Linked DNA regions of Homo sapiens: all the other regions are linked to region 3. Evidence: fine-mapped expression QTL. A gene starts in region 3. Each other region holds a variant in brackets. All regions are shown on one strand. Distances are between the middles of the regions.

Region 1 (6,881 bases), 640 kb before region 3:
TGCTGAGAAGAATGTACATTCTGTTGATTTGGGGTGGAGAGTTCTGTAGATGTCTATTAGGTCTGCTTGGTCCAAAGCTGAGTTCAAGTCCTGGATATCCTTGTTACTTTTCTGTCTTGTTGATCTGTCTAATATTGACAGTGGGGTGTTAAAGTCTCCCATTATTATTGTGTGGGAGTCTAAGTCTCTTTGTAGGTCTCTAAGAGCTTGCTTTATGAATCTGGGGGCTCCTGTATTGGGTGCATATATATTTAGGATAGTTAGCTCTTCTTGTTGAATTGATCCCTTTACCATTAAGTAATGGCCTTCTTTGTCTCTTTTGATCCTTGTTGGTTATCAGAGACTAGGATTGCAACCCCTGCTGTTTTTTGCTTTCCATTTGCTTGTTAGATCTTCCTCCAAATGTTTATTTTGAGCCTATTTGTGTCTTTGCATGTGAGATGGGTCTCCTGAATACAGCACACCGATGGGTCTTGACTGTCCAATTTGCCAGTCTGTATCTTTTAATTGGGGCATTTAGCCCATTTATATTTAAGGTTAATATTGTTATGTGTGAATTTGATCCTGTCATTATGATGCTAGCTGGTTATTTTGCCCATTAGTTGATGCAGTTTCCTCATAGCATCAATGATCTTTACAATTTGGCATATTTTTGCAGTGGCAGGTACCAATTATTCCTTTCCATGTTTAGTGCTTCCTTCAGGAGTTCTTGTAAGGCAGGCCTGGTGATGACAAGGCTCCCAGCATTTGCTTGTCTGTAAAGGATTTTATTTCTCCTTCATTTATGAAGCTTAGTTTGGCTGGATATGAAATTCTGGGTTGAAAATTCTTTTCTTTAAGAATGTTGATTATTGGCCCCCACTGTCTCCTGGCTTGTAGGGTTTCTGCTGAGAGATCCACTGTTATTTTGATGGGCTTCCCTTTGTGGGTAATCCGACCTTTCTCTCTGGCTGCCTTTAACATTTTTTCCTCCATTTCAACCTTGGTGAATCTGACGATTATGTGCCTTGGGGTTGCTCTTCTGGAGGAATATCCTTGTGGTGTTCTCTGTATTTCCTGAATTTGAATCAACAAATATTTTTATCATCAGAGTCCAGAAGAAGAAGAGAAGGGAAAGAGGATAGGAAATTTATTTAATGAAATACTAGCTGAAAAACTTCCCAAATCTGTTGAGAGATATAGACATCCAGATCCAGGAAGTTCAAAGGTCTCCAAATGTATTCAACCCAAAAGATCCTTCCCAATTTGTCAAAAGTTAAAGACAAAGAATTATAATAACAGCAAAAGAAAAGCATCAAGTCACATACAAGGAAGTCCACATTAGACTAGCAGTAGATTTATCTGCAGAAACCTTAAGGCCAGAAGGGAAGGGAATGATGTATGTAAAGTGCTGAAAGAAAAAAAAAATGCCAACCAGAAATACTATATGCAGCAAAGCTATCCTTCAGGAATGAGGGAGAAATAAAGCCTTTCCCAGACAGACAAAAGCTGAACTCCAGCTTCTTAGCCTTCTTTTCTCTTTTCACCAGAGCAACCCAACCCCTAGACTTCCTGTATTAAGAATATAAGGTGGCCAGGCATGGTGGCTCATGCCTATGATTCCAGCACTCTGGGAGGCCCAGGTGGCAGGATCGCTTGAGCCCAGGAGTTCAAGACCAGCCTGAGCAACATAGCAAGATGCCATCTCTAAAAATAAAAATAAAAATTATTCAGGTATGGTGGCACATGCATGTGGTCCCAGCTACTCAGGAGGCCAAGGCAGGAGGATCACTGGAGCCCAGGAGGTCAAGGCTGCAGTGAGCTATGATCATGCCACTGCACTCCAGCCTGGGTAACAGAGTGAGACCTTGTGTCAAAAGAAAAAATACATTTTTAATTAAATTTTATTTAAAAAGAAAAAGAACATAAGGTGGTAGTGACAGCAACGACAGAATACCAAGGTTAGTCTCCATGTCCACTGTATTCTTTGCACAACCCCTACTATCTTGTATTTTTGTGAGATGATCAGGTGACCAAGTTTGTTTTCTTTTCTACTTTATTCTGTAGTTATCATGTGATGTAAAACTTGATCCTCGTCCAGAATACCATCGGTGTATACTAACTTGGCATCACCAAGAACCACTACCTTGGGCACAGAGTACAGGTTAGTCATTCACATCTACAGATATTCCTAGACACCTATCCTGTTAAAACACAAACTTATATATAATCTTCCTTGGTTATGACTGATTTTGTAATTATTATACATTTTTCTTTTTGAAAAGTTAGATGAGTTAAGTTATTCCTAAACAGTATAGCAAAAGTTAAAAAATAACTATTAGAAGTTTACTTATTTTATTGAGCCATATTTTCTAGATAAACATTTAGAATGTCCACATATCATTGACTAATGTCCTGTAATAAATCTGGAATTACAGAAGATTTGATATGTTTGTTCAACCAATAAGTTCTGAGTATAACTTTGTAGGAAAAGGAGGAGATTCTAGCTATACCATCTTGAAATGTGAGATGAAAGCCCAATTTATAATTTGATTCTCTGTAGCCTCTACCATACGCTAGTTATTGGTAAATTTGAAGGGCAGAGAAATCAATATTGATAATGCAGAGTTCTACAGTAACCTTCACTAGACTTTAAACTGTTATTCCCAACTTCCCTACTCATATTTTGCCTAATTTTTGATGTGACTCCAGAAAAGTTGTAGTACTCTTTAAACAAAGATCCTACCAAGTGAAAACGTCAACTAACAGCGACTAAGTTCATGGGCTTTGCCATCAGAGAGAACTGCATTCAAACTGGCCACCAACCTACTTAGCAGGACCCTAGGCAAGTTACCTAAAAATTTTTTGAGTCTTGTGAGAATCAAATAAGGTGTTTAAGTAAAGTGCCTAGTACTTTGGCACTCAGTAAAGAAATGGTAGCTGCTACCATTATTGTCATTATTATTTTAATACTTTTTTTAAAGCCTCCCTTTTCAGACACGCATAACATTTCAGCCTGAATTGAGAAATTCTATGGCATTTTGCATAATGCTATAAAATCCTGGTTTTACTCTTTCAAGCAAGAATTTCTAATGTTTATTTTTAAAGTTTGAATGAGAAGGTGGTAGGATATAATAGCATGGCCACCTGAAAAAGGTACTGGAAAGTTTGATCATCCCTTCTCCTCTTGAAGACCCGCATTTCTGTCTGTTTACATTTTGAAAAGGTCTACAAGGGCCCAACTGTATACGCCATGATGCTTATGCTGCTGTAATAAGAGTATTTCTTTCTAGGTAATCAAATGAGCAGCCGTCTGATGAGCATGCGCAGTGCCAATGGATTGTTGATGCTACCTCCAAAGACAGAACAGTACGTGGAGCTCCACAAAGGCGAGGTGGTGGATGTCATGGTCATTGGACGGCTATGATGGTCACCAGCAGGAGAAAGCTTTGATGCATGTCCACATATCATTGACTGTATCCTGTAATATGCAACGGCACAGCTAGTTTTCCCGATTTGGATAAAAGTTGATCTGTATAGTCAACATCTTGAACTATATTTCAAATGAATTTAAATATCTTTTAAAGAAAAAAACACCTAAAAATAAATCTTAACAGAAAATTCTGTTCTGATTATATCAAGGCAAATTTTTCCTTTCTTGCAAATTGCTTTGTGTGTTCAATGCTAGGTCTGATAGCGATAGCTTTTAGTAGACAGCGGTAGGTGCCTGCAGAACTTGTGTTTTTCTCATCTTTAAAATACAACTACTTATGCTCTTAAATCAAGGCTGTCTGCTTATTTATACTAGCGTAGGCAACACTTGGATTTCCCTTCTTAGTATGCTTCATAACTG[C/T]TTTACAGAGAGCTTTTGCTTGTTCTTTCTCATGTATCTCGTGTTTATGTGCACAGTGCCAAAAGAAGACTGACTGGGTGGAGGCTCTGCCTTGCCTCAAGAACCATCCCCTGCAGAGCATCCAGGGAGGTTTCTCGCCCCAATAGCCTCACGGCACAGTACTCTTGGGCAGTAACTGGACACCTTTTATTTGAAGAAACAAACTGAAGAAAAAATGCTTCCTTAAGTGCTGACAGCCTTTTTAACCAATACATTTAAAATTGTACAGAACAAAAAAATAAAATCAAAGACTGATCTTGTACAGATATTAGTGTTACCAGCATTCATGTGGAAATCAAGAGCAAAGACAAAATAATGTTAAACAATTCTGTACCATAACATTTTCTGTAATGATACTGAAACTTAATGAATAAAAAAATTCCTTGATCATTATTTAAAAATGTAATGTGTTGGCCTCGTTATTTAAAGAGAGAAGATTGTCATGCCATTCTGATAGGGTTCTGCCTGAATAAAAGAAATGGTTAAGATGGCCTACCAAGAATATTTAAAATATGGTATATTGTAACTCTGTATCTTACTACAATATGTGGGGAAAAATGTGATCATAGCATTATGATCTGTAGTGTGTGAAAATACAGATGAGAAGGAAGGAGAACCTGCAGTTGGTCTCGTCTTTCCAGTCATAGCTGGAGAATAGCAAGCAAATTTAGAGGAAGGGTACTAATGACTTAGAAAAAAAATAATTCTTATTTTAGACGCCATAAAATCCAATTTCAAACATCTACAGTTCTTTGAAATGGAGAAAAAAATAAGCAATGAAACAAAAAATTACAGATGAGCGCCTCGAAATTTTTAACCGTGTTAGAAAGGAAGTGAGAAATGGCAAAAAATATCTGTGCTGACCATAGAAAACACAATAGGTAAAATATACTGTATCCACAATGGATCCTTTAATAAAAACTTAGGGGCACTTTTCAAATGGTGGTAACAGGAAGATGTTAAATATACTGTAAAATGTGCTCAGGAAAGCAAACTACAAAAATTGGCCTACTAGTAAACAAAATGTCAAGGGATGGTAAATAAAGGCAAAATAGTAAACAAATATTTGATACTGATATGTGATATTTTCATTCATATTTACAGTTGAAGAAGATAAGGTTAGTTAATAGAGGTCAAATGAAAGAGTATGCAAATAATCCTTTTATGTACATTCATTCAAGAAATATTTGTTAAGCATCTATTATGTGCTTGGGTACAAAGTATATCATGCTACTATTTACAAACATGAATAGGGCAGAGCACCTGACCTTACACTTCATTAGGGAGATAACAAAATGCAAGCAAATAACCACGATATTTAATATATTTGATAATATATAGTAGAGTGTATAGAATGTGATAAATGCCATAATACAGATTTTAAGGGTTGGAAGAATTCAGATGAGATTTCAAGGAGTAAGATGGCATGTTAGTGGGTCTTTTTTTTTTTTTTTTTTTGTAGAGGCACAGTCTTGCTCTACTGCTCAGGATAGAGTGCAGTAGCATGGTCCTAGTGCACTACAGCCTCGAACTCCTGGCCTCAAGTGATCCTCCTGCATCAGACTCCGAAAGTGCTGGAATTACAGTTGTGAGACACCATGCCCAGCTGATGCTATTGGGTCTTGAAGGAAGGTAGAATTTTGAAGATGATAGCACAGGAAAAAGAGTATTCCAAAAACAGAGAATGACAGGTAATTAATGATAATTATTTTATTATAGGATAATTTCTATACCTGTAATATAAGAAGAACAACAATTATAGGGGTGTCGTGGAAATTAAACATATGAAATGTGCTGAGAGCAGTGCTTGTCATGTATTAAGCTCCACAAAGGTAGAGATTTTTGTTTATTTTGTTCACTCCAGTTATCCCCAAATTCCTAGAAGAGTCTGGCATATGTGCATATATGCAAGCATCAGTAAATATTTGCTCAATAAAACACATTATGTAGAACTTACTGTAGGCCAGGCATTGTCCTAAACACTTTACATATGTTCAATTTTCACAACCCTATAAGCATTGTTTTTCCTGTATTATAGATGAGGATACTGAGGCACAGAGATTAAGAAACTTGTCCATGGTCACATAGATAGTAGGAGAGAGAGCAAGGATTCAAGTTTAGCAATCTGACTCTACAGTCTATATTCTTTTATTATTTTTATTTTTATTTTTATTTTTTGAGGTGGAGTCTTGCTCTTGTCACCCAGGCTGGAGTGCAGTGGCGCGATCTCAGCTCACTACAATCTCCACCTCCCGGGTTCAAGCAATTCTCCTGCCTCAGCCTCCCAAGTAGCTAGGATTACAGGCATGCACCGCCAGGCCCAGCTAATTTTTCTATTTTTAGTGTAGATGGGGTTTCACCATTTTGACCAGGCTGGTCTCAAACTCCTGACCTCAGGTGATCCGCTGGGATTACAGGCGTGAGCCACCGTGCCCCACATCTATTCTGTTTTTCTTTTCTTTTTTTTTTTAATAGGGTTTCACTCTGTCGCCCAGGCTGGAGTGCAGTGGCATGATCTCAACTCACTGCAGCCTTGACCTCCCTGGGCTCAAGTGATCCTTCCATCTCAGCCTCCTGAGTAGCTGGGACTACCCATCACACCTGGCTAATTTTTTTATATTTTGCAGAGACAGGCTGGTCTTGAACACCTGGGCTCAAGTGATCCGCCCATCTCAGCCTCCCACAGTGCTGGAGTTACAGGCATGAGCCACCACACTCAGCCTACAGTCTATCTTCTTTAAGTTACAGAAACAAAATAGGTATAAGATGTTTGTAAGACTGAAAAAGTACTGATTTAAGGCCCAAAAGTTATTAAAGTTATTAAAGTTAATTTGGTATTAAAGTTCTTAAATACCAAATTAAGAGTCTAGATTTATTCTAGAGACAATAAAACCATTAGAGATTCTTGATCAGGGACGTATCATGATCAGAGATATCCTTTTAGGGAAAACGCTTTGGCAGCCTTGAGGCAGATAAACTAGAATGGAAAGAAACAAGTGAGAGACACCAG
Region 2 (5,000 bases), 24 kb before region 3:
TGAACATCAGTTCCCCTGAACTGGGTGAGGACTTCAGGTTGAACGTGAACAGCACCTGTCATAGGAGAGGGAGTGTGTGGGCCCTGGTGGTCCCACTGATTTAGGGAATGTCCATGGATAGGAGATCTTGCCAACCATTAGACTGTGGCCCTAAGATGTCTTTGTGCTTTGTAGGGTCAGAAGAGCACTGAATGTTAGAAGAGCAGGTCAACTATAAAAAATAATTCATAAAAGTAAGAAAACCACCAAAGCCTCAGTAGAAAATAGGCAAAAGATGTGGACAATTTCAGAGGAAATATATATGACTAATATATAAATGAGAAAATATTTTTTCCCTTGTCAGTAATCTAGGAATTTAAGTAACAATAACATTTTGCATCTATCACAATAACAAAGCACAAAAATAAATCCTCAGGAGATGGTGTAACATTAAGTGTCACAACTTTTTTGAAAAGCAATTTGGCAATCCATAAAGCTTTAAAAATGTTTACATCTTTTGACTCAGTAGTTTTTATGAGGAACTTTCTTAAAAAAATAATTCAAAAGGCTTAATGCCTAAACGTAATCACCTTGGCACTATATATTACAACTATTACAAGGTTAAAAATAATCTAAATCTTGAGCAACAGGAAAATGGTTAAATGCAGCTACTTGATCAGACTATTGTAAGGTCACTAAAATCAAGGTTAAAAGACAAATGCTAATATTAAAATGTAAAAATGCATGATATAAAGTTTTAGATTTGAAATAATCTCAGCTATATAAAAGTCATACATATTTTGGAGAAATATTGGCCAAAAAAATAAATTTTTAATATTGGTTGTTCCATACTATAGGGTTAAAAGTAATTTTATTTTCTTGTTAATACTTTCTGATATTGTCGTATATGTACAACTTATTCTGTCTGTATCCAGGTCAAAAAATAAAAGTTTTTATTGAAAAAAAAAAAAAAGACCACGGCTCAAGAAAAGGAGGAGAAGTGGAGGACATTTAGGGGTAAAATATCATGGGACTCCTAGCTAAATTCCTCTGGATTTGAGTATTAGAAAGGCTGGGGAGGGGCTGGCGTGGTGGCTCGTGCCTGTAATCCCAGCACTTCAGGAGGCCAAGGAGGGTGGATCATTTGAGGTCAGGAGTTCAAAACCAGCCTGGCCAACATGGTGAAACCCCGTCTCTATTAAAAATATAAAAATTAGCCAGGAGTGGTGGTGTGCACCTGTAGTCCCAGCTACTCAGGAGGCTGAGGCAGGAGAATCGCTTGATCCCAGGAGGCAAAGACTGCAGTGAGCCGAGATCGAGCCACTGCACTCCAGCCTGGGTGAGAAAGTGAGACTCTGCTTCAAAAAAAAAAAAAAAGAAAAAGAAAGGCTGGGGCTGGGGAGGGTCCTATCCTCCTCCAAGGATCATAATTATAATTATCATTAAAGTATAAGATCTAAAATGATCAGAGAAGGTTAAGTAAAAATTGTCCTGTTACCTAGAGTTCCCTAGATTTATTCCTCAAAAACTGAACTCACATGAAAGAACAATTCTGACCTACATGTTACGTAGATAAACTACCAAATACTTTACTACCAGTAAAAGTATCATTAATATGCCAAGAGGGTTTTAAAAATTAGAAGAGTACTATTTTATGTTATTAAGTTTAATAACTTGTTATTAAGTTTAATCAATAGTAGAGGATTTTTATATTTCTCACGGCTAGAACATAATCCTCTTAACATTCCTATGAGGTAGAAAAACCAGGTATTACATTTAACTCCAATTTTCAAATGAGGAAACCAAAGCTCAGAGAGGTTCAGTCTTTCTGATTACCATTCCAGTGCTATTTTCTCTCTACAATACAAATATTCTAGTCTGCTAGCTCTCCATACTTCTTGTATATTGAACTGGCATTCTATTTATAATTGAGACTGGGCGCAATGGCTCATGCCTGTAATCCCAGCATTTTGGGATGCCGAGGCGGGTGGATCTCCTGAGGTCAGGAGTTTGAGACCAGCCTGACAAACATCGCAAAACCTCATCTCTACTAAAAATACAAAAATTAGCCAGATATGGTGGTGCATGCCTGTAATCCTAACTACTCGGGAGGCTGAGGCAGGAGAATCGGTTGAACATGGGAGGTGGAGGTTGCAGTGAGCTGGGATCGCGCCACTGCACTCCAGCAGCCTGGGTGACAAAAGCAAATCTGTCT[C/CAAA]AAAAAAAAAAAAAAAAAAAAAGAAAAGGAAATTGTATTATAATTTTTAACTAGATAAAAACATGGGCTGGGTGTGGTGGCTCATGCCTGTAATCCCAGCATTTTGGGAGGCTGAGGCAGGTAGATCACTTGAGGTCAGGAGTTCGAGACCAGCCTGGCCAACATGGCAAAACCCTGTCTCTACTAAAAATACAAAAATTAGCCTGGTGTGGTGGGCACCTGTAATCCCAGCTGCTTGGGAGGCTTAGGCAGGAGAATCGTTTGAACCTGGGAGGTGGAGGGTGCAGTGAGCAGAAATCGTGCCACAGCACTCCAGCCTGGGCAACAGAGCAAGACTCTGTCTCAAACAAACAAACAAACAAACAAGCAAACAAACAAAAACCCATGTATATGTTCAGAGAAGGAGTCAAGGAGAGAAACAAAAGTTTCCATGCTTTTAAGTGGTGGGAGTGTGGCTGAATATTTTCTTTCACCTTTTAAAAACACTGCTTATGTTAAGAACCACAAACAATTCACTATCTTTCAATCCACCCTGCTGAAGACTGGGCCTGGGCACATGGAAACCCCCTCTTGCTTCTGCTTCTTCTGCTTGATGTGGACCCCTGAGTGCTCCCAGGTGGCTCTGGTTGTACATGCTCCGAGCCTTACCTGATGCTAAGTCATTCAGGGGCTGAAAAGGTATGGCCTCCCCTCACCTGATGGGCTTCTGCGAAGTTCCCGCGAAGGATGCAGGATGCCAGCAGTGACTCAGGTGGGGAGAACATCATGGGGATGAGTGAACTTTGAGGATGGGGGTGCAATCTACTGTGCAGCTCATTCCGGCCAGACATGGCACTCAGACTTCCCTCTGTTGGGACACAAGAATGTGTGGGGCCAGAGAAGCAAGAGGAATTAAGGAAATGCTATATTGCTGCCACCTCCCACCAAACTTTTATCTCCTCAATGTCCTTCTGTAAAAGGCCTGTAAATAGGTCTTAATTTTTCCTCAAATGAAGGGCAAACCTATGCTACCATCTTTGAATAGAAGATGCTAAGTGCCAACTACCTTCTTTGGGTATTTACCTCTATTTCTCTCTGTTGCTGGATAACTAAATTGAGAATGAAACAGTCCTTTCCCTTCTCCCAGCTAAAATCTGGCCATCTGCCAACCTTGAATAACAACCTTGACTGCTCAATCCTGGCTTTACACCATGGTGTATGGCAACTCTATATCAGGGCAAAGCTGCTCAAAGTTGGCAACTGGTGGAAATCTGCATACCTGACGTACTTGTGCTCAGCTCACTACTTGTACTTTCCAGGGATGGGTTTGAACCTCTGTCTCGGCCATCTACAGGTATTGGGAAGAAGAGAGAAAGTCAATTATCAGCTCCTTATAGAGTAGGAAGTGTGAAGTTGGCTTGACAGCCAAGATCTGTGTAGTTAGAGACAGAGGATAATGAATAACTATGACACCTGCTGCTCCTTCTACAGCAAAACACAAGCTCCTATAGACCAAAGGCAAAGGGTGGGCTGAATATGGCAACAGAGTTCACCTGGGTAATAGCCTATACCAGTGGTTCCCAACCTGTGGGTCTCAGAGCCCCAAGAACTTTCAAGTTATTTTTAGGGGTCAGTGATCAGCACCTGCTCAGTAAGCACTGGCAGTATTCTGAAAAAATAAAAGCACAACTGTTATGACCAGGGAGTGGTAGGGACACAGTATTTCCTGACATAGAAAAAGGTATCTTCATACTTGAAAAGGCAGACAACTGGCTGGGTGCAGTGGCTTACACCTGTAATCCCAGCACGTTGGGAGGCCGTTGTAGCAGGATAGCTTGAGGCCAGGAGTTTGAGACCAGCCTGGGCAACACTGCAAGACCCCGTCTACACAAAAAATTAAAAACAAATTAGTTGGGCAAGGTGGCATGCACCTGTAGTCCCAGCTACCCAGGAGGTTGCGGCAGGAAGGATTGTTTGAGCCCAGGAGTTCAAGGTTACAGTGAGCTATGATTGTGCCACTGCACTTCAGCCTGGGTGACAGAGCAAGACCCTATCTGTATTAAAAAAAATGTAGGGAACCAAAGTCTAAGACCTGGCTGGCCAAAGACCATGATATTCAAAGTCTCAGAGAAAAAGCTTCTCTCTTCTCAACACCAGGCTTCCTAACATGTTAGAGCTTTCTAACAGAGGCTCGCTATTCCTTAGCCTGGTCATTCGAGGGGCTGTCTCAGCCTCATGCAAGGGAGGCACCTCAGTTCACTGTTTGGAAGCCCTTTAGAAGGAACAGCCGTAGAAGAGATGATGGGTTGTGCATTCTTGTGCTGAATGGGTCAAGTGGATGCAAACTCTGCCTTCTGACCCAAAACAATTAATGTAGCAGCTTAAGGGACTTAGCAACGCAACCTTGAAGCTTTCTCTCACGGCATCCTCCGCCCCACCCAGTATGCTCACCTTTCATGTTGCCACTTAGCTAGAGCCTACTCATTCTCTGGAGCTTGGTTCAAGAGTCAACTCCTTCATGAAATCTGTTGCCCTGACATCTGCAGGTCATGCTGATATCCTCTTTTAAGACATTTCTTCTGTTTTCAGGCAGGGTCGCAGGTCACTTTAAACTTTCCATGTATACTATCTAAGCAGGTACATTACAAATTGTTCGAAGTCAAAAGCCTAGCTTGTGCCTCATTTACCTCCCTCAAGATACCTAGTATTGTTTAGCCCATGGGAAATCCTCATGAATTCCTTTTAATTTTTAAAAGATCAACACCAAAAGCCATAATGAAAACTTGATTCTCTAAAAATTTAATACTCCTGCATAATGCGCCTATAT
Region 3 (6,522 bases):
TAATGAAACCCCATCTCTACTAAAAATACAAAAATTAGCCAAGTGCGGTGGCAGGCGCCTGTAGTCCCAGCTACTCGGGAGGCTGAGGCAGGAGAATCGCTTGAACCTGGGAGGCGGAGGTTGCAGTGAGCCTAGATCATGCCACTGCACTCCAGCCTGGGTGACAGAGCAAGACTCTGTCTCCAAAACAAACAAACAAACAAACAAACAAACAAACAAATCAGAACCAGAACAGAGCTAGCAGCTTTCATAAAAAGCCTTAATCTCACCTCCACCTCCTTATCTTAGTTTAAAATAAAATAATATTCGAGAAAACCATAATAGCTAATACTATCTGAAGCATATTTTTAATACAGAAAGTGAATCAGACAGTCTTAAAAAAGGAACTTCATACAAATTTATTTTTAACTATATGCTAAAAACAGGACTTTAGGAATTCATAAGCCTTTCTTTGAAGTTAGGAATTTAGACGGTAACTGGCTAGATCTCAAATTAAAGGAGAAAAAGAAAAGGAAGGGATCACTTAAGTTTCTCCATCGTATATGTGCTAATACAATATGTAAACAGTATAGCATAACAGTCAAAGGAAGGAAAACCCAAGGAAAGACTTAAAACGGTACATTTGACTCCTACATCACCAGTGGTTACTAGCATCACCAGGAGGAACTTCATTGAAAATCAAGGATGGAGAACTGTGGTTGCCAGGGAACAAGGAGGGGTTGTTGTATAAATACAAAGAGGTAGCACCAAGGAGTGAGGGAATTCTTTTGTGGTAATGGAACAGTTCTGATCCTTATTACAGTGGGATTACATGAATCTATATATGGATAAAACTGCATAAAACTACAAATGAAAAAATGAAGGCAGATTAAGAAAATGCTGAAAACCAAATAAACTCTGTAGTGTCATTTAAAGTAATGTGCCAATGTCAATTTCATGGTTTTGATATTGTACTACAGCTGTATGAGACGTCGCAATTGGGGCAGACTGGGAAAAGGATACGCTGGACTCCATTATTTTTGCAGCTTCTTGTGAGACTGCAATTATTTCGAAATAAAAAGTTTTAAGTAAAGCGACAACAATATTTTCAATCTCATAAGCAAGAAGAGAGCAGGGTTTGCTTTTTTGGAGGCAAAGAAAATAGTTTTCAATGCAGTTCCACCATCTATATTAACGAGGATAAACAAGAAATGGCAGTTTCAGGCACACTTTGGCAGCCAGGCTTACATTCAGTTGCAGATGATAATCAAAAGCCAATATTGACTAAGTAATGGATGTATACTATAGAGGTAAAATTTCAGAGCACGTGAAATACACTGTGCCTCTGCTTATTCTTCAGAGGGTAGTTGAGTGGGGGCACATTGACCAATGCCCAAATATTGAACCACATGTCTCTCACCCTGGGACCGTCTGGTAGGAAAAGAGATCCCTTACCTCAGCAGATTTGGACACACCACCAATGCCTGAAGTATGTCTTCTACCCTCTTTGGGATATCCCCTTGTCCCTCCTGTAGCTGAGGTACACATGCCTGTGCCAGCTCCCATTCTCCCCTCCGCAGGCATTCGCAGAAAAATCCAAAAAGCTGCTTCTGCGAAGCAGCTTCCTCTTTTCCAAATGGATGATTCATTTTCCCAGCACAGAGTGCAGGGAGATACAAAGAAATGAGTTATGCCGAACACATTCTCAATGTTCTCATTCGCGGAGTACCTCCTAGAAACAACACAACGCCAGTGAGAAGAAACAGAAGGCACTGTATTAAGACAAAGCAGCAACTACTGGTCCGCCTGGGAAAGGCGGGACTTGCTTGCCTAAGTATCGTTTTCAGTTTAATTTCCCACGTTACTTTTTGAAAACACTTTCTTCAAGGGGTGGATCCCATCTCTTCACGCGGATTCCTATATTTAATAATATTAATAGTCATATTTGCTCCGGGCGCAGACCCATAACTCTACGTCCGTATTCCCTACTGAACGTTATGCCCAGTCTTGACTCCAAATCCCCAGGTGGTCGCCTCCTCAAGAATGAGAAATTCAGCAGGAACCTCCCTAGTTTGAGCCCTCTGTTAAGGCAGAGGATTGACGACCAGGAGACGAATCTGTGTCATAAGTGGAAAGCAGTGTGGGGGTGGGCCGCAGGGACGCTCTCTGCGGGGGTCGTGGAGAGGGGCCCCTCCCTCTCAGGGGTGTCTTACACTCACCTGCTCCCGGCGCCCAAAGCAATAGAGCTCTCAGCGCAGCCATGTTTGAGCCGAGTCAGGTGACAGAACCCACTCCGAACAGCGGTGGTGGGGGTGGTGACAAAGACTGAAAGCCCCACTCCTATTGGCTCAAGGCAGGGAAGATGAAAATTAAGTGCCATATTTGTTTGAGTCACGTGACGCCACCTCTCCGGGAGTAGGGAAAGCTAGAAAGCTCGGAAAGAGGAAATCAGCTACCTGGCTGCGGACCATCTCCCTCAATTGTGACAGCTCCGGCGCTCAATACTTTCAGTTCTGCATTCGGCCGAGCAGGTGGCAGGAAGAACTGTGACCCTGGATTTTTTTTTTTCTTCCACTCTCTTATCTCCTTAACATGTGAAGTCAACATTTATTGAACGCCAACCAGTGATGGTGTTTTGCCAGGCGCGGGGGATACCCGGAGCTAGGAGAACTGGGTTCTCCTCCATTATTATTCTATCTACTGGGCTCTTTTGTTCCGGAACTCTGCGGTCTGAATTTCCATATTCTTCTGCTTCACTCCATTCATTTATTTGCACATTTACCCTACAACTGTTAATTGAACGGTGTGCTAGGCTTTATTTTATTTTTTTAGAGACAGAGTCTCTCTGTCGCTGGAGTGCGGTGGTGTGATCTCGGCTCATGGCAGCCTCGAACTTCCTGGATCAAGTAATCCTTAAGCCTCAGCCTTCCTGTAGTAGCTGGGACTAGAGGCGCGCGCCACTACACCGGGCTTAGGCCCTATTCTCTAAGTTGAGTAAATGGAGGTCCTTCTTCTCAAGGGAGATGCAGGCCAAAAATTAGGAGACGGTGGGCTAAATTATAAGACAGAAGTATGCATAAGAGATCAGAGAGCAAAGAATGAGCAAAGGCTTTTTCGCAAACACAATAATCTGAAACCAAGTCTTTTGTTTTGAGACAGAGTCTCGCTCTGTCTCCCAGGCTGGAGTGCAATGGCGCGATCTCGGCTCGCTGCAACCTCCGTCTCCCGGGTTTAAGCGATTCTCCTGCCTCAGCCTCACTGTGTAGCTGGGATAAGCGATTCTTCTGCCTCAGCCTCACTGAGTAGCTGGGATTTACAGGCGCGCGCCACCACACCCGGCTAATTTTTGTATTTTTAATAGAGACAGGGGTTCACCATGTTGGCCAGGCTGGTCTCGAACTCCTGACCTCAGGCAATCCGCCCACCTCGGCCTCCCAAAGTTCTGGGATTACGGGCGTGAGCCACCGTTCCCAGCCTGAAACCAACTCTTGAAGTAACGGCTTACTAGGTTTGCTCACCACAGCTGCCTTACACCAAGCCTTTTGTTTGGTTTCCCTGGTGTGCTTTAATCACAGACTCTCAGCTTTCCTCACTATGTGTGTTTCAGGTTTAGTAATTTCATTCAGCATTTCCCAAACTATTTAATCACCAAAGGGTGGTGAAAAGAGCAAGTTAAAACAAACAAAACGTTTTCTTCCAAAAACTCTTCTGTGATTGGTGGATTGTCCTCGATTCCTGAGAAAAGTAACATGGCTTTCTGGCCCATTAAGGTTTTTTTTTTTTTTGAGGCAATGTCTGGCTCCTCTCACCTCAGCCTCCCAAGTAGCTGGGATCACAGGTGCCTGCCACCATGTCTGGCTAATTTTTGTATGTTTAGTAGAGGCGGGGTTTCGCCATGTTGGCCAGGCTGGTTTCGAAATCCTGAGCTCAAGTGATCTGCCTGCCTCAGCATTCCGAAGTGAAACCGCCTTTGCAAAATTATAACTGAGGAAATTATGACAGTGAAAGAAATCAGACCTAACCGACTCTATCTTGCTTCTAACCGTTAAGCTGTCCTTGTTCATTCCTGGGCGTAGGCTGAACTAACTTTGGGGAGGAATTCAGTTCATGGTTTGACTCTGAAACAAAATTGATAACAGCCCTTTCCGAAAAGACCCACTTCTTGCCTGGGGACCAGTCTGCCTTTGCAGGACTAACAAATTAGCTACAAGTTTAGAAATTACAGTTTAGAGGTCATGCAGCCTCTGGCTCCAAGAGTCTGAACCTCCCCAAATTGCTCCCGGGGGTGACATCACTATTGCAAGCCCTAAGATCAGTGCTTGAGATATTTTGTAGACCCTGCACTCCATGGATCAGCTGACACCACTCAGACCAGTAATTTGGCGCAACCAGTTTTGCCATCACACCCAGGAACAGAAGACATTAAGAAAACCTCACTTCGACCCCTTATGATTCCATCTCCAACCTGACCAATCAGCACTCCCCACTTCCTAAGCCCCTACCAGCCAAATTATTGGTAAAAACTCCGATCCGCAAATGCTCGGGACAACTGATTTAAGTAACAATAAAACTTCAGTCTTCCGCACAGCTGGCTCTGCGTGAATTACTCTTTCTGCATTGCAATTCCCCTGTCCTGATAAATCGGTTCTGTCTAGGCAGCTGGTAAGGTGAACCCATCGGGCAGTTTCAAAAGTGCTGGGATTACAGGCATGAGCCACCGCGCCCAGCCTATTTTTTGTATTTTTTTGTAGAGGCGGAGGGGTGGGGGAGGGTGTCTCACTATGTTGCCAAGGCTAGTCTCGAACTCCCAGGCTCAAGTGATCCTCCCGCCTCGGTCTCCCAAAGTGCTGAAATTACGGGCGTGAGCCACTGCGTCTGGCCCCTTTAAGCCATTGTGAAAAGTGATGATACACGAAAAAAAAGATTTCCAGGGCCGAGAGCGGTGGATCACGCCTGTAATCCCAGCGCTTTGGGAGGCCGAAGCGGGCGGATCACGAGGTCAGGAAATCGAGACCATCCTGGCTAACACGGTGAAACCCCGTCTCTACTAAAAATACAAAAAAATTAGCCGGGCGTGGTGGTGGGAGCCTGTAGTCCCAGCTACTAGGGAGGTTGAGGCAGGAGAATGGCGTGAACCCAGGAGGCGGAGCTTGCAGTGAGCCGAGATCGCGCCACTGCACTCCAGCCTGGGCGACAGAGCGAGACCCCGTCTCAAAAAAAAAAAAAAAGAAAGAAAAAAGAAAAATTTCCAAACAGGGTGTTCCCTTGTTTCACATTCTCTTTGGTGATGGTCCTGCAACAGATTTTGATAATCACTATATTGAGAAACTGCTTCAGATTCGATCTGTTAGGCTGATCATAGTATTAACTACAATTCCCAGCAAGCCGCGGAGCCAACCTGGGCCTCTGCCGGCCTCTGATTGGATACAGTAGCCAGAATGACGACTCAATCAGTGCTTCGGTTGTTGCTTTGCGGCGTTTTCCGCGGGGAAACTGTGTAAAGGGTGGGGAAACTTGAAAGTTGGATGCTGCAGACCCGGTACTGGAAAGTTTCATGTGGGGTGCCGTTGTGGGGAAGTGGGGTTCGCTCATTATTTCCTGCTCCTTCCCTAGGCTCGTGGGTTTCGATATTGGGGGAGCGGAGATTTTCTCTTGGGTGCTGGTCACGCCCCCTTAAGACTCGGGATCGTCACTAAGAACCCCGCTGTGAATTGGGGGAGCTTCGGGCCTTCTTTTGGTGGGGAATGCTTGGAAGCTGCTCATTGTTGGAAAAAGCTCTTTTTAGGGGATTCTGGGTGATGTTTCCGCCTGTTGCTGCCCATCTTCCTCCCCAGCCCCTTCCCGCTTCGGGCAGCCTGTCATTAGGGGAAGTTGAGGGACTCTCCCACTTCAGGTGGTGTTGGAGAGCGTGGAATCTGGAGTCCGGTCCCTGGATTCGAATGCGAGCTTCACACCAATTGTCAGCTGTTTAACTTTGCCCAAGTTTCTCAACTAGTTACCTCAGTATCCTTATCTGTAAAGTGAGGTAAAATATCCGAAGCCTTTGGAACAGTGTGGCACGTAATAAGGGCTCAATAAATATTAGCTAATATTGTTCCTAAACAGTTGTTGAACATCTAACATGAAGAATTTTCTTTTCTTGGTGGTAAGGAGGACAGGGTTCATTCTCCAGGGTTGACCGTCTCCCCTCATGTGCAATACACATACGTGCTTTCGCGCACACATACACCGCAGGAATTTACGTGCTCCGGTGGGGGCAAACAAACTTGCAAGCCATAATAGTATTTTGATAAGATTATCGAATAGATATGTGCGAAGTTGATGAGAACATTGGAGAGGAAAAGACTTGACTCTGGGGAAGGTTTTGTGGAGGGAAGTCAGGGAGACAGGATGCGTGACCTACCAATACACATACCATGTGGCTGGAGGGCAGATCATGTGAGAGTCATTAAATGATGATTGCTGACCTTAAGTACTATGTGCCACGCACTCCCCGAGTCCTTTAACCTCCACTACAGTCATATGAAGTAGTAAATTCATATG

Which allele goes with the higher level. Positions count from the first base shown, and alleles are read on the strand shown. Sizes are in standard deviations (SD) of each study's normalised expression. Not every link is listed here.
For the expression in neutrophils of the gene that starts at base 2,255 in region 3, T is the low allele of the variant in region 1 and C is the other (large effect, 1.5 SD a copy in BLUEPRINT).

The links. PIP is the estimated chance that this variant, and not a neighbour inherited with it, causes the effect.
Region 1: its variant is the best candidate, but not a certain one, in a credible set for the expression of ZFYVE26 in neutrophils (BLUEPRINT, PIP 0.73).
Region 2: its variant is the best candidate, but not a certain one, in a credible set for the expression of ZFYVE26 in whole blood (INTERVAL, PIP 0.53).

The regions. Positions count from the first base shown.
Region 1 is chr14:67,177,532-67,184,412 of GRCh38, forward strand. It overlaps GPHN (gephyrin), which reads left to right. Exons shown (of 23, transcript NM_020806.5): 22 at 2,047-2,143; 23 at 3,273-4,272. The coding sequence ends at 3,406. All of the region lies in intron 1 of LOC105370538 (a long non-coding RNA gene), which reads right to left. Among named protein-coding and RNA genes, the nearest start is that of GARIN2, 8.5 kb to the right of the region's middle. The variant C/T (reference allele first, on the strand shown) is at 3,833.
Region 2 is chr14:67,790,719-67,795,718 of GRCh38, forward strand. ZFYVE26 (zinc finger FYVE-type containing 26) reads right to left here. Exons shown (of 42, transcript NM_015346.4): 13 at 3,453-3,521; 14 at 2,890-3,041; 15 at 1-55. Among named protein-coding and RNA genes, the nearest start is that of ZFYVE26, 23 kb to the right of the region's middle. The variant C/CAAA (reference allele first, on the strand shown) is at 2,195.
Region 3 is chr14:67,814,336-67,820,857 of GRCh38, forward strand. It overlaps ZFYVE26 (zinc finger FYVE-type containing 26), which reads right to left and starts at 2,255. Exons shown (of 42, transcript NM_015346.4): 1 at 2,199-2,255; 2 at 1,435-1,711. The coding sequence starts at 1,628. It overlaps RAD51B (RAD51 paralog B), which reads left to right and starts at 5,444. Exons shown (of 11, transcript NM_133510.4): 1 at 5,444-5,518. RefSeq lists enhancers at 2,467-2,636, 2,687-2,786, 5,277-5,571, 5,831-6,522.